2 separate regions of the Homo sapiens genome follow, and region 2 is linked to region 1. Evidence: fine-mapped expression QTL. Tissue or cell type: whole blood. Region 1 holds a variant in brackets; the other region holds the start of a gene. All regions are shown on one strand. Distances are from middle to middle.

Evidence for each region. PIP is the estimated chance that this variant, and not a neighbour inherited with it, causes the effect.
Region 2: TANC2 starts here. The variant in region 1 is fine-mapped to the expression of TANC2 in whole blood (TOPMed, PIP 0.97).

The regions. Positions count from the first base shown.
Region 1 is chr17:63,121,902-63,130,008 of GRCh38, forward strand. All of the region lies in intron 4 of TANC2 (tetratricopeptide repeat, ankyrin repeat and coiled-coil containing 2), which reads left to right. Among named protein-coding and RNA genes, the nearest start is that of TANC2, 160 kb to the left of the region's middle. The variant A/G (reference allele first, on the strand shown) is at 5,002.
Region 2 is chr17:62,962,574-62,970,680 of GRCh38, forward strand. TANC2 (tetratricopeptide repeat, ankyrin repeat and coiled-coil containing 2) reads left to right here and starts at 3,662. Exons shown (of 28, transcript NM_001394998.1): 1 at 3,662-4,176. RefSeq lists a silencer at 3,549-3,738.

The DNA of each region.
Region 1 (8,107 bases):
GGATGCAGTGAGCTGTGATTGTACCACTGCACTGTAGCCTGGGCCACAGAGTGAGACTTCATCTCTTGCGGGGGGAGGGGGGAAGAGGGGGAGGGGAGGGTGCATATTTCCCTGGAGAAAGAGATTGAGAATCAAGAGGCAAGGATGAAAAACTCAATCTGGTTGAATCTGGAAGGCTTACTCAGTTCAAAAAAGTGAATAGTGGTTTGAAGTTGAGTTAAGCTGTAGTGGGATGAGAAAGGAATATTTCATGTCGGAACTAGAGAAGAATGATGATAGAGAAACGGTTTAGCATTTTAAAGCCTGAGAAGTCCTACAATAAAGGGAACTTTTTAATTGTTTAATCTAGCATCTCTAAAACTTGACAGCAGACACTTTATTTCTTACATGCCCCTGCAAAACCATGTGGAACAAGTAAGTGTTCCAAGGAGCATGCTTTAGGAAATAACTGACCAAAGAAAGTTATGTCATTTAGAAGGAAAGAAGAGTGGTTAACTGCACAAAATGAAGTATGAAAGAAATCATCTTAGCACTCCAGAAGATATGGAAACATGGCTGGGTCTAGTGGCTCATGCCTGTAATCCCAGCACTTTGGGAAGCCAAGGCAGGTGGATTACTTGAGGTCAGGAGTTTGAGACCAGCCTGGTCAACATGGTGAAACCCCGTCTCTACTAAAAATACAAAACTTAGCCAGGCATGGTGGTGCATGCCTGTAATCCCAGCTACTTGGGTGGCACAAGAATCACTTGAAACCTGGGAGGTAGAGGTTATAGTGAGCCGAGATCACACCACTGTACTCCAGCCTGGGCGACAGAGTGAGACTGTATCTCAAAAAAGAAACAAAACAAAAACAGAAGATTATGGAAACATAATTTACTCAGATTCCCCAGATAAATTATACTTTGCTTTAATATTTTAAAGATGAGTGTGTTTTTTAAATTGGAGAAAATATTGTTTATTATGTAGACTAGAAAGTAAAATGGTAAAGTGACTTAAGTAAAATCTCAGAAGCAAAAGTGTACAAAATGCATTCAAGTGGTAAATAAATCAGTTTGTCTGGAACAGAGGTTTCATGAAGGATGCTCTGGAAGAGACAACTGGGACCAAAATGACGAAGCCATTAGGGCAGTGATAACCTAACATGGTAGCCATGGAAAATGTATAAAGAGAAAAAGATTTTGGAGGAATAAGCAGATTGGTGACTGGCCAGCTATAGAGTACAGGAATATGAAAGATCTGCCAAAGATGATTATACAATTTTAAGAAGAAAAATGATGGCTTTGCTAATAGGAAAAGCTTAGACAGATAGCTGATTTTAAGAGATTGATAGACATTGAGTTCAGGGTGGTAGGACGATATAAGAGGGGAAATGTGGGCCAGGCGCGGTGGCTCACGCCTGTAATCCCAGCACTTTGGGAGGCTGAGGCGGGCGGATCACAAGGTCAGGAGATCAAGACCATACTGGCTGGCGCAGTGGAATCCTGTCTCTACTAAAAATACAAAAAAAATTAGCCAGATGTGATGGCTGGCGCCTGTGGTCCCAGCTGCTGGGGAGGCTGAGGCAGGAGAGTTGCTTGAACCCGGGAGGCGGAGCTTGCAGTGAGCCGAGATTGCGCCACTGCACTCCAGCCTGGGCGACAAGGTGAGATTCTGTCTCAAAAAAAAAAAAAGAAAAAGGGGAAATGTGTTTTCAGCACTTTGAAAATAAGTAAGGTTTTAAGCTGTAAATTTGGAAGTTATACCCGTAGAGAGTATAGTTAAAACTGTAGAGTAGGTAAAATCTTTTTTTTTTTTTTTTTTTTTTTGAGATGGAGCCTCGCTGTCACCCAGGCTAGAGTCCAGTGACACTATCTTGGCTCACTGCAACCTCTGCTCACTGCAACCTCTGCCTCCTGAGTTCAAGCAATTCTCTGCCTCAGCCTCCCGAGTAGCTGGGATTACAGGTACCTGCCACCACGCCCAGCTGATTTTTTTTATTTTTAGTAGAGATGGGGTTTCACCATCTTGGCCAGGCTGGTCTTGAATGTCTGACCTTGTGATCCACCCGCCTTGGCCTCCCAAAGTGCTGGGATCACAGGCATGAGCCACAGCGCCCGGCCATAAGGTCTCTTTAGGATGCGAATTGAACAAATAGAAAAGGTAGAAAGTAAATATTTCATAAGAATTTACGAGGAATTTTCATGTTTACTCATTTTGTCTTTTCGTTGGCACTTTGAATTATTATGGCCCTAATCTTATTTATGAAGAAAACAAGACCTAATCAGGCTAACCATGAAGAATTTAGGCATAAGAGATCAGAGCTCCAACTTAGACCTCTCTCTAACTTCAGTATCTGTTCTCGGGGATCAAGAAGTAAATCTTAAGAAATACAACCTAAGGGACCAAAAGAGAAAAACCCACTTTAAAAAACAAATGAGATGAATAAGGAGCAGTATGAAAGATATTGAAGGAACCAAGATGGTGTAACTTTTGCTGGAAACTGAGGCTTGGAACCGTTTGAGTGACTAGGATCATGATTTTCTTGACATATGATTCTGCCTTTTGCTCTCCTGAACTGTAGTCCAAACTCTTAGCTGCAGTGGTCTACATTTGGCAAATATTTGTATTCTGTTTCATTAAAGAGGAGAAAGAAAGAGAGAGGCTACATAAAATCGGTGGGAGAAGGAAGCATTTAATGAGAAACTTACAGTCAAATACACTTCTTAGAGTTCTAATTGCTTTTTGGTGTCTGTGATATATAGTCACATGTAGCAGGGATCCCCAACGCTCAGGCTGCAGACTAGTACCAGTCCGTGGCCTATTAGGAACTGGGCGGCACAGCAGGATGTGAGCCTGCAGGCGAGCAAGCATTACTGCTTGAGCTCCGCCTCCTGTCAGATCAGCAGAGGCACTAGATTCTCACAGGAGCATGAACCCTATTATGAAATGCACATCTGAGGGATCTAGGTTGCTTGCCCCTTATGAGACTCTAACGCCTGATGATCTGAGGTGGAACAGTTACATCTCAAAACCATCCCCACCCCCAACAAAAATTGTCTTCCGCAAAATGGGTCTCTGGTGCCCAAAAGATTGGGGACCACTGATACATAGGACTCTTTAAGACTTTTAAAAATGAAATGTTTCTCTTTCTCCATTCAACATCCTTACTCCAGTAAATTTCTCGTTAAGATAGCTGAAAGGATCCCTAAAGCAGTTAACTGTTTTACCTTAACTCCTGCAATATGATGTAATAGTTCAGATCCTGCGCTTACTAGCAGTGTGACGTTGGGCAAGTTGTATAACTTCTCTGTGCTTCAGTTTCCTCATCTGTGAAATGAGTATAACAACTCCCTTAGGATTTGTAAGAATTAAAGGAATTTTTACAGGAAAAATGCTTACAACAGCCTCTAGTACATAGTAACTGTCCAATAATGATAGTTGATGATGATGCTGTCACTTAATAGCAACTGCATGATCCTATGTATCTCTCTATACCTTTCTTTAAAGTCCTGTGTACTTTTCCTTTTTTTCTTTGTTGAGAAGGGAAGCCGTTTTTTACCTTTACTAGGTAGGCTGAGTTTTTTAAGTGAGCAGAGAGTAGTTACAACTTGAATCAGAAGGCTTAAATTTATATGACAATATAAACATGCCTGGATTTAGAAAACATCTTGCTGTCAAATGGATACTGGTGGTGTCCTCTCCTGATAACAGTAATATTGTAACCATTAATGTTCAGAGTATTTCATTGTGAGTTTATATTACTTCCTGTGGGAACTGGTTTCATATTCAGTCCAAAACACTTGATAAGTATGTAGTTTCTCCTTCCTTGTTTTATTTAAAAGAACCCTTTACCAAAAAAGTATGATAAATATATTGTCACATTGTTATGATATAATGAGAAGCTTTGATATAATTGTGGTAAAATTATACATTCAGTACACAGCAGGCCTTTTCATCTTAGCATTTATTACAAATTTAAGTTTTAAATTAGTTAGCAATATAATGTAGCGTAAGCTTATCTTACATAGTTTGTGTACTCTGGAGCCAGACTGCCTGGATTTGAATTCTGACTGATATGCCTTACTTCTGTGTCCTTGGGCAAGTAACTTAACCTCTCCCTCAGTTTCCGCATCTGCAAAAAGCAGGTAGTAATAGTACCTACTACTTCCTAGGGTTATTATGAGGATTACATGAGTGAATGACTTTGAACAGTTTTGATCACAATAAGTGCTCAATTATTGCTGTTATTATTTAGTATTTGTGTGGTTTACGTCTTGTCTCCCTAAAAGGGAGAGAGAGTATTTGTCCTTTTTATTATTATATCCTCAGTCTTTAGCACAATGCCTGGCATATAGTAGATGTTCAATAAATATTTACTGAATAAATCAATAAAACATCCTGCACTTACCTAGAGCTTCAATAATATTCTTAGCTTGAATGCCTTCGGCTAAGCAGGCCAAAGCAGATAACACTATTATGATGTTAAGAGCCTTTACTCACTAAGGTTTTTTTAGTGGGGGGTTTAGTTGTTGCTGCTGTTGTTTTTTGACGGAGTCTTCTTCTGTCGCCCAGGCTGGAGTGTAGTGGTGCAGTCTCGGCTCACTTGCAACCTCCACCTCCTGGGTTCAAGCGATTCTCCTGCCTCAGCCTCCCAAGTAGCTGGGACTACAGGTGCATGCCACCACACTGGCTGATTTTTTTATTTTTTAATAGAGATGGAGTTTCACTGTGTTGGCCAGGCTGGTCTTGAATTCCTAGCCTCAGGTGATCAGCCTGCCTCGGCCTCCCAAAGTGTTGGGATTACAAGCATGAGCCACCATGCCCGACTCACTAAGGTTTTATTAAAGTGAGATCTTGAAAATTTGTGACTCACTGTTTTATTTATTGATCAGACTTGTGATGGTAAACACTTTACAACTGAGGCTAGAAGTAAGTATGACACATGAGTCACGTTCCTTTTACCTCCCCACCCCCCACTGATTCTTAGGACTCTAACAGTATTATAGTGCCTAGAAAAGAAAG[A/G]AATAGCTCTCTTCATGCTGATTTTGACCTGTTTTTAAAGCTTATTACTGAAAGGTTATAATGTAAAAGGTACTGCTGATATATAAGGTACTGCTTACCTAAGCCTGAGGCTGGGGACATACTGCAGTTATGACTAAGTTTCTCATTTTTAAGTACCAAAAAATGGACAGATTTAGCTTGTCAACACTGCGATTAAAATTTGCTGTTTTTTCTTGTTATTACCGCTGGGTATTCTCTGTTGTGTTCAATAAGGAATTCTTCTTATGGTACTAAATGTCTAATATTTTCTACCCTTCTCCATTCTGGGGATAAATCATTGCTTTAATGAACCATTTTTGTAGATATATTAATGTCTAGTCTAGTTTATACTTATTTTAAATGATATTTCATTTGTTTATACAATGTGACATTGAACTATGAGCTACCTCTTCTACTTCTAACTTAATTTTAATTTGACTTTAATTCTAATTATATAATTTTTCCAGATTATGCCTTGGATTTTGAAAAGACATTTCTTATCAAGGTTCATCTGTCCAAAATAGTTTTATGTTTCTCTTATGCTTTTGACACTTTACTTCCCAAATCATTTATTATTGAGAAAATAGCTAGTAAAATGTCACAAAAATTGTATAGATTAGAGACTGAAATGTGACAAAGTAGAAATGATTTCTTTATGAAAATCTATTCATGCTTTAATTTCTTACTCCATCATGGTCCTTTCAGTTATGGGCACTGGCTCTCATTAGTCACCATAAGAAACTGGCAGGATTTTATACTCTGCTTTATTTCCAAATCTAAATATTGACAATTAGTGCCTTACAAGCATGGTGGCATATGAAAATGTTGTTAGACTTCTCAGACCTTTCTCATTTTATTTGCGTTCTGCATATTACCATGCCCTGCACACTGTGAGCTAACTCTACCAGTTAGAAGAGAAGATTTCTTAACTGACCTTCCCCTAATCACTTGCAGGATTAAAGTTTTCATTCCCTTTGTGACACCTACTGACTGTTGTCAGGACAAGATGTATATTAGAGGCCAGTAGGCTACCTTCTAATGCACCTGGGTACTTCTGTTATTCCTGTGGTGGCCTGTGCTTACTTAATGAGAGGCAGTTAAGTTAATGCCCATTGTACTTCTTATTATGATAATATAATTAAATTATGTATATGTTAGATACAAATACAGAAAGAAAGCACCTATAAAAGAGTTTCTAGGAAAATTATGTTAAAAGCTTTGGAAAAACTCAATATCAATAAAAGTAAGGTGCTAAAAAAATGCTGTAACTGGATGACTACTCAATAATAATTGTACATTTTAAAATAACTAAAAGAACATAATTGGGTTGTTTCTAACACATAGGATAAATGCTTGAGGTGATAGATACCCCATTTATCCTGATGTGATTATTACACATTATATGCCTGTATCAAAATAACTCATACGCCCCACAAATGTATATGCCTACTGCGTACCCCCAAAAATTAAAAATAAATTTTCAGTGAATTTGGGTGAAGGTATTTTAAAAATCTGTCTTTACTTAGGTTGTCTAAGATTTGGTTTATTTTGAAAAAATTGACTAGATTATACATTTTAGTGCAGTTTACACAAAAAAGAAAAGTTGGAATTCATATTCAAACAAAAGGCCTTGGCCTTACAGCAAGAGTTTGTTTAATAAATGTACATTTATATTTTAAGGGAAAGTGTTTAATACATGTACCAACTTTTTCTTTGCTCATTTGCAACATTTTAGAAAAACCAATCCGCTACTAGTCCCTGTCGGTGTAGGATAAGAGGACTTCTGTATATATTACCTTCATATTTTTCGGTAGCCCTGACCAAGTTTGGGAGAATCCTGAGAAAAACCACAAATTATTCTCAGGAGAATTTGTGGAATAGACCTGTGAATTATGGTCTTGTCTGTATATGACTTAGGTCAAAATTTAATTGTGAGTGGAAATTTGTGTTTAGTAACGTGTCATTCCTATCTGTTGAGCCTACTAAATGCCCTCTCAAACTAGAGAGCTATGTGTAAAGAATCTTATGTTCTTCTTGGTTCAGTTGCATACTTACGGACGGTTTATAGAAGTAGTTAAGTAGCCAGACTTTGTGGGGTTTTTTGTTTGTTTTTTTGAGCCAGGGTCTCGCTCTGTCACCCAGGCTGGATGGCTCACACTGCAGCCACAATCTCCAGGGATCCTCCCACCTCAGCCTCCAAAATAGCTGGGACTACAGATGCTACACCATGTGTCCGGCTGATTTTTTTTTTAATTTTAACTTTTGTAGAGATGAGATCTCACTGTGCTGCCCCGTCTGGTGGTAAACTCCTGGGCCCAAGCAGACCTCCTGCCTCGGCCTCCCAAAGTGCTGGGAATACAGGCACCATGCCCAGCAGTACCTAGACTTTGTAGTAAGACATACAAGGTTCAGGTTCCAGCGTTACCACTTATTAGCTGTGTGAGTTTTTTACATGTTATTCACATTTTCCAAGTTTCAATTTCCTCTCTTATAAAATGTGCATAACAAGAGTAGCTACCTCATAAGAATGTTATGAAGATGAACAGTGTATGTCAAGTGCTTAGCAATGTGCTTAACTCCTGAGGTCAGGAGTTTAAGACCAGCCTGGCCAATATGATGAAACCCCATCTCTACTAAAAATACTAAAAATACAAAAATTAGCTGGGTGTGGTGGTGCACACCTGTAGTCCCAGCTACTTGGGAGGCTGAACATAAGTAGCTGTACATGAGAACAACTATGAGCAAGAAAGTTGGCTTCATATCTATAGTATTTTACCTGTTGTAATGATGAGTCCAATTAGATTAGAAAAATAAATTATAATCACCACCTTATATTTTCTTTATAGTAATCTTATATATCTATACAGTTATAAAATAAGAAATTGTGTGCATATGATGAGCACTGAATATTACATCATCTGTGTATGCTCATAGACATTCAAAACTTTTAAGTGATCTTTATTATTAATAATGTAATAATTTTGAAAACTTTTATAGAAGTATGTGATAGATTTACTAAAGTACACTTATGGACAACAACACGTAAGAACAACTATGAGCAAGAAAGTTGGCTTCATATATACGGTAT
Region 2 (8,107 bases), 160 kb before region 1:
ATCCCAGCACTTTGGGAGGCTGAGGCAGGCGGATTGCTTGAGCCCAGGAGTTCGAGACCAGCCTGGGCAACATAGCGAGACTCCATCTCTATAACAATATAAAAAATTAGCTGGGCATGGTGACATGCACCTTTGGTCTCAGCTACTCAGGGGGCTGATGTGGAAAGGTCACCTGAGTCTGAGAAATAGAGGCTGCAGTGAGCCATGATGGTGCCACTGCACTCCAGCCTGAGTGATGAGGGTGAGACCCTGTGTCAAAAAAGAAGGAAAGAAAGAAAGGAAGGAAGAGAAGGAAAGAAAGAAAGAAAGAAAGAAAGAAAGAAAGAAAGAAAGAAAGAAAGAAAGAAAGAGAGACTTAGAGGTAGCCAGGGAAGACACCATATGCAGAGGTGGGTGATAGTGCAGAGTTGAAAGGGCAAGAAAGGGCATTTTGAATGATACAGATGATGCTAAAATGTTGGGAGGTATAGGGCAAGGATGGGCTACATTATGAACAATTATTTGCAGGTTCTTATTACACGGCATACGTTACATTTCCAAATTTAAGTTATAGACTAACATCTTTACTAGAATGGATTTTTAGTAGGTAATAAAATTAGTATTCTCAGGATTTCAGGTAATAGTGACAGAAAAGGGAATCAGGGAGAGGAGTTGAGAACAGAGGTGGCTTCTTGCTGCAATGTTGCTCTCTGTCCCTACTATACCCCACTCACAACTCTGTCAGGGACATATTGTTTCCTCCTCAAAGTTAGAGTGTGGCAACAAATTATAAGACTGGACAGTAGAACGACCTGGAAGAGAATTGGCAGAATAGAAGGATGGTGGATGATCAAAAGAGCGAAGCAGTGAGTTCATTCCTGGACACTGCCCACATGAAAATGGGATTTGGGAAAGGTTGGCTAAAAGAAGTGGTGACTGATCTTTGGAAGTATGGTGAGGACAGTGAGTCAGAGTTACTCACTTTATCAGCGCAGGGGACCATGTGGGTTACAGCTATCAGATCTTACTGTGGGTAAATCCAATAAAGAGCTCTGTTGCTAAAATTGAACAATTACAGTGTTTTTCTAATTTCCAGGAAAAATGGGTTTAAAGGTTTTCATTTTGTGAATTATTATTAATTTTTTGGTACTTCCTACCTTGTAAAAAAGTTGCAAATAAATTTAAAGAGAAAAACACAGACATATTATTTCTTAAAAACACATTATTTTTTGGCTGGACACAGTGGTTCACGCCTGTAATCCTGGCACTTTTGGAGGCCAAGTTGGGTGGATCACATGAGGTCAAGAGTTCGAGACCAGCCTGGTCAACATGGCAAAACCCCATCTGTACCTAAAATACAAAAATTAGCCAGGGGTGGTGGTGTGTGCTTGTAATCCCAGCTACTTGGGAAGGAGGCTGAGGCACAAAAATCGCTTGAACTCGGGAGGCGGAGGTTGCAGTGAGCCGAGATGGCACCACTGCACTCCAGCCTGGGTGACAGGTCGAGACTCTATCTCAAAAAAAAAGAACAACAACAACAACAAAAAGCCCCCATTTTTTTATTATGTGATTATGTGGAGATTTGCATAACCATAAAATTGCCAGATTTAGTGCTTGTAAAATTGTGTCAATTCCATATGGCAGAGTTAAATCTATCTGTATTTCATGATGCTCCACGTTGAGCACCATAATTTCTAGAGACTGCCACCTGAACTAGTTTGAAAACCAACATTACACCCCTGACTGCCTTTTGTTATTTCTCAGAGAAGGAATGTTATTAGCCTCAGTGGAACTCGCAGGGAAAGGCTTAGATAGAAAGTAATCTTAAAAAAAAAAAAAAAAAAGACCGAAGGAGAATTAAATAGGGTAAATTCAAGTGTAAGAAGGATAACATAATAGCTCCTGTTTCCTGAGTCCTTATTGTGTAACAGGATTTGTGCTAAGTATTTTCCAAAATTTTGTTTCATCTTTACATCCATCTGTGAGGTAAGTATTAATATCACCCACGTTAGACAGATGAAGAAAGGAAGGTCCGGAGACCTGTTCAAGGTCACACAGCAGGTAAGTGTTGGGTGACACTGAGATTCAAACTGAGGTTTTCCGACTGCAGTGATGATGACATTGTAATGCTTCTTTGTGTGTATGTGATTTTAAAAAACTGACATGAAGTGCACAGATCTTTTTGCATATGTATACACCCGGGTAACCATTAAGATATTGAATATTTCCAGCAAACCAGAAGGCTCTCTCCTGTCCCCTCTCAATCAATTCCCCTGTAAGTAATCACTACCTTGCCTCTAATACCATAGGTAGATGGGTTTTCATTAGATTAATCTAACTTTCTGGAGTTAACACCAAAAGATTCCATATGTCAGCCCTTCACCTTGCCATGTTAGCTGTATTATTCAAAGCTGCTCTAGCTCTGACTTTGCAAGCATTCACTGTAAAGAAGAGCTGTTGGATGGACATGTTCATATCCAGTTTCTTGTATTGTTCTGAAATTAATACTAATTTTTGAAAATCGAAGAAACTCCTGGATGAAGTGCTACAGGATGGGGCAGATTAAAGTGCTGTTATCAAACAAACCTCTCTACCTTGGAAGCGCCACAGACAGAGCTTCCTTGATTGATGTAATTTGGCGCATCTATTTCCAATCATGTCATCTGATTAAGAAGTTGGATGACCACGAAAGGTCATCTCAGTTTATGGAAGGGAAGGCGAGCCGGGCAGAGTTGGTAACGGTGATTGCTTCGCATCATCTTGCAGCACGCGATGATGTTTATGTCCCAAATACCTCCCACAGCCGACTTGCTGTTTTATGATAGGAGGGAAACAGTAGAGGGGAAGAAGATCTAGGTGGAGGGTGAAATATGACCTAACATCGTTCGACGAGGTATTAATGTGGTGGCTTTCCCGCCCTTGTCGACCAGCTCTTAAAACCACGCTACTTCTTAGTCAACCTGGCAGTGACAGAAGCAGCGCCACGACTTTACCTCAGGTTTGCAAGCTGTGGTTGGTGAATTTTCAGCCATTATTCTAAATAACAGTCTCGGTCTCCCCACAAACCCCACTGTTGTTTTGTTTTTCTTTCTCATTCTGATTCTCCCCACAGCCAACCGTGGCCTTTTGAAGTCGTCTACAAACTACCACTGAGAATCCGGGAAAGAATAACTGACACTTGTAGGCTTCGAGGACTCTCAGAGTGATATGTGCCTGAGGTGACCGAAGTGGGGGAGATCTAGGAGAGCATTCCGGTCATCAAAGCAGGAGGACAGGCCCTGAAATGGGCGCACGTGACAGCAGCAGCCACCTCGAGAGTGACATCACCCCTGAGGGCGGAGCCCAACTATGTAGGGCCTTGTCAGTTACCGAGCGTCCTCCCTGCTGCCCCTCCAAATGCCACCCACAAGTCCGAGCCCCCCGGGGATACGAGAAATGCCAGGACATCCCAGAGCGCCAGAGCCAGGGCCCCGTCTCTCCGCGCGGAGGAGGGCTGCGTCCCCACTCCCTCTTCCAGCCGTTCCCCACCCCCAAACTGTGGAAGGGGCGGGGGCGCGCGCGCTCCACCACGCACGCGCCCCCACGCACGCGCGCTCCCTCCGCGCTCGCGCCCCTCCCCACCCCAGCCCGGAGGGGGCGGGGCTGCGGGCGGCCTCAGAGGGTGCGACGCCCCCAGCGCGGCGGCGGCGCTAGCGAGCGGCCGGCGGGGCGCGGGTTGCTGGGCGCGCTGCTCCGGCGGGGCCCGCTGGCACAGCCGCCTCGCGCGAGCCGCCCGCCCGGCGGGGGAAGCTGCGAGCGCTCCGAGCGCCCGGCCTAGGGCCGCTGGCGCTGCCCTCCCGCCGCCACCGCCCTCCGCGCCTCCTTCGGGCGGCCCCGCCCCCATTCCCATCCCCCTCGCGCTCACCTCCCGGCTGTGCCGCGCGCTAGGCGGAGCGAGGCGCCCGCCGCCGCCGAGCCGAGCCGAGGGGCGAGAGCTGGCCCCCGAGCCGCCGCTGACAGGAGCACCGCCGCGGGCTGCGCTCGCCGGCTGCGAGGCCCCGCCGCGCCGTTCCGGGGTGCAGACTCGCCGCGGGGCGTTGGAGGACTGCGAGGTGCTCCGGGAATCGCGGGCGGCGCCGGCGGGCGGCGCGGTCCTCACAGGAGACCCCGGGGACTGGGGCTTGACCCGGAGGTGCAGAGAGCCCCTCAGAGCGGCAGGTAAGGGGCCCGGGGAGCAGGGCGAGGAAAGGTCGCTTCAGTGACAGGGTCGTTCGCCTCCACAGCCTCGGCTCCGGGGAGAGGGGCGGGGGCGAGCGGGGAGACGGCGAAATGGGCAGCGAAGTGCCTCGGTGTCCAAGGCGTGGGGAAGGCTGGCTCCGAATATGACACCAAGGCGGGCTTCAGAGGCGTGTGGGGTCGCCACTTGGCTGTCACCGAAGATGTCATGGAATTTGGTACCTAGAGCGTCTCTGGATGACGGGGACCAAGGATAAGATGCGAGGCGGATTGCTAAACGTGGCAGGGAATGTGGTGCAGAACGAGTTGCAAAATGTGCCCCCAGAATGCAGCATAAAAGTAGTTGCGAAATGTGCCAGGTAAGGCACAGGATGGGCTGGCCTCTGTGGCGTTGAAATTCATGGTCGAAGTGTTATTAGCGATATTAATAATTCCTCTGGGAAAGGAGGTGTAGCATAATAAAAGATTAATAAGGCTCATTGCTAGATATTTTGCCATAGGAAATCGGGAGGAGCTATGATAAGCTATTTTTTTTGAGGTAGAGAAAGTAACCACGTGAAAGAAAAAAAGCAAATTGTGTCTGGCTGTGAGATTGGAAAGAAAAAATAGGGCTAAAATAATTCCAGGTTTTGCCATCAGCGTGTAGAGCATTGGTACAATTGTATCCAGTCTTCATTTCCAGGTGTGGAATGTTTAGAATGGTCTTCACAAAACATAAACAATGATAATTAACATTAGGAAGAAGATTTGGTGTTTCGGGTGTCTTTCACTCTCTTCTCTGCTCCTCTCCAGGAAAAGAAACAAACAAAACCCCAAACGTCTTGACCATAATTATGAGTTAAAGATCATTAGGCAAAGGGAAGTATTTTTCGTATGTGCCCTTTTCCTGATTTTTACACAGGTGAAAATATCTGTAATGAGGAAAACAAAGCAGTGTGGTGAACAAAAGGGATAGATTTTCAGGCATTTTGAGGGGTTGGAGCCAGTATCTATCACAATGGTTAATTATAGAGAACGGCAGTACTAAAATATTCTTGTATGTTCTTGGTGTTGGGATGGTGAAATAAAAAAAAAAAAGAATACAGTAAATTGGCATAAAAAGCAACAACATGGATACTGTCAGTGGAGTGCTTCTTGCAGCATTTCCCAGGTAGATCCTCTTAGGGATGTGAGCACGAAATAAAACGTTAAACATTCTCTTTCTCCCTCTCTCTTGCTCCCCTCTGTATCTAGATATTTATTTATGTCTCTATATAGATATATGTGCATGTATATTATACATACATAAGAAATTACCAACATGCTGCAAAACATTGTGACTTCCATTTAAGAACATCTGTTTCGAGAGGATTGTCAGAACATAGCTGGAATTTCAGAAGTAACAAAAGACAACTCCATGATCTATTTAATGTAACTTATATGTATACATACAATGAGTGTGAATATACTATATAACAAAAGCAGAAATATGGAAATGTGTTCGTTAGAATGTACTTAATTATTGATGAGATTTTAATGTTTTATGTTATAATTCTTGTAAAGAAATTAAATTACATGTGTGAATGCTGTTCTCATTATAGTAATTTGCCAGATAATCTGAAAATTCATACTGATTGGCTTTCCCTTAGATCCAAATTCAGCCATTGAGGGATCATTTGCTTCAAAGACAAAAATAGATTTTCCTTGGTGATTGATTTTGGGTTTTAGTCTTTTCTGTAGATATGTCCCTTACCTTGAGAAGCTGTTGGGGCTGAAGAACAGAGGAAAGGGCCAGAGGAGAATAAAGAGAATTCTGTTGGGTCTTCCTGTTTTGTTCTGACTGTAAGCCATATGTACTGCCACCCCCTACTGTCTGTAGGAAGAGGTGTTACAGAGCCCGATTCTTTTCTTGTTATCACTGCCCCCTTGTGTAAGGGAAGAAATTGATAGTTGCGCTCGGGGAACCAGTCCTCTCAGATTGTTCTTGATAGAGTATTATGTAGATCTGTGAATCACCTATTTTCTTCAGAGTTGAAGGGCTTTAAACTTACTGTTAATCAGGCCTCAGATTTGGTGTCTATTTTAAATATAGGTAGCATTTGATGTTAGGAATTCAGATTGCTTAAGAATGTTTTTGGTACTTTCAGGAAGAGGGTGCAATACAATTACTACTACATTCTTCCCTTATTGTATGCAGGGGATTGGTTCCAGGACCCCCACATATGCCAAAATCCTTGCATGCTCAAATCCCGCAGTTGGTGTATGGAACCATGTATAGGGAAAAGTCGGCCCTCAATATACTCGGTTTTTGCATCCCATGAATACTGTATTGCTTGAAAAAAATCTGCATAGGAGTAGACCAGCACAGTTTAAGCCCATGTTGTTCAAGGGCCAGCTGTACTAGTAGTAACAGCTCACATTTATGTAGCACCTATTCTTTGCCAGTCCCGTTGTACGTTGTTTTAATCAGTTCCAACACCCTATGAGGTATGTGTTGTTATTTCTGTTTTACAGATGAGAATCTGAAACACAGAGAGGTTAAATAACTTGCCCAATACTATATAGCTGAGAAGTAGAAGAGCTAAGTTTCCATTTAGGAATGCTAGCTCCAGAACCTGTGCTCCTCATCAATATGCTATATTGCCCTCTCACTCAAGGTAGTATTGGCAAGGCATAATTAAAATGCATGTGCCCATCATAAAGCAAGTACAATAGATGTGGATAAACCTGGACAACTCACATAGATGTTAAGTCTGCATATATACAAAAGATACAGTTATTTGCAGTGTGAACATTTCTCTTTAGGAATTTGTTTTTTAACTTATTTCTGGGATTATGCGTAGAGGAGTATTAGTACTTTTTATGTGGTTAAGGAAATATTTGTGATGGTGGTTGGTTTGAAGGGAACTTCAGAGGTAAAAAGTTAATTTCAAGTAGTTTAATATAGTGTGTGTGTGTGTGTGTGTATATAAATACACATTCATACACACACACACAGCCTTTTTAAGAGCACCAGTAAACCTTTACTGCTTATTTTCTGTAGGGAAATTAAGGATAAATTACAATATTTTTCTTCCTACTCATATTTTTATGACCTCTTTTTCATTTATATTAAAAACTACCATAATTAGCACAAATGGATTAGATGCCTATGTACATTTTACCTCTAATGTCAACAAATGTTTGTTCAGATTTTTCTCACACTTAAACATTGTTTTATAAGATATTGACCACATATGACAAAGTATTTATAAAAATGTGTAAAATATAAAGACTTCACAATGCAGCCAACACTTACATGCCTTTTACCCAGTTTAAGAAATGGAACATCATCTTTCACAATTATAATAGTTATTTTCTTCTCTTAGCCAAATTGCTTCTGCCATTCTTTTTCAACAGAAACCTTTCCTTATTGTGCTGCGAATTGCATATCTCATGTAACCAAACACTTCCCTTTTTATATACATTTGTTGATATGGGAATTCAATATAATCTACTGCTTATGGCTAAAACTTATTCAGCATATATGCTTACGTAATTTAATATATTTAATAAATTGTCATACACTCAGACTATGCTTTGTATTTGTATTGGTTACTGGTTGGTAGTTCATTTTAGCATACTTCACTTGTAAAACTTAATTTGGTTTGCAAATTAGGATTTTACTAACATTGTTAAACATTAATAGATTATTTCCCTCTTCCATCATGAATTCTTGACTGTCCCACGCTAGCTCTGTTTTTTCTTCTTTTCCCCATAACTGCCTTTGCTCTTTATTTCTTAAGTGAGTATGAATTATTTTGAATGGAGAGGGAAGGAGACCCTAGAAAGGAGTATACTAATCCAGTCATTTCAAAGGGGACTATTAGGGTAGTTGGTACTGATTGAATATATGGTAGAACAAGTGTGCATAAAAGAAATGCATGAAAATCCT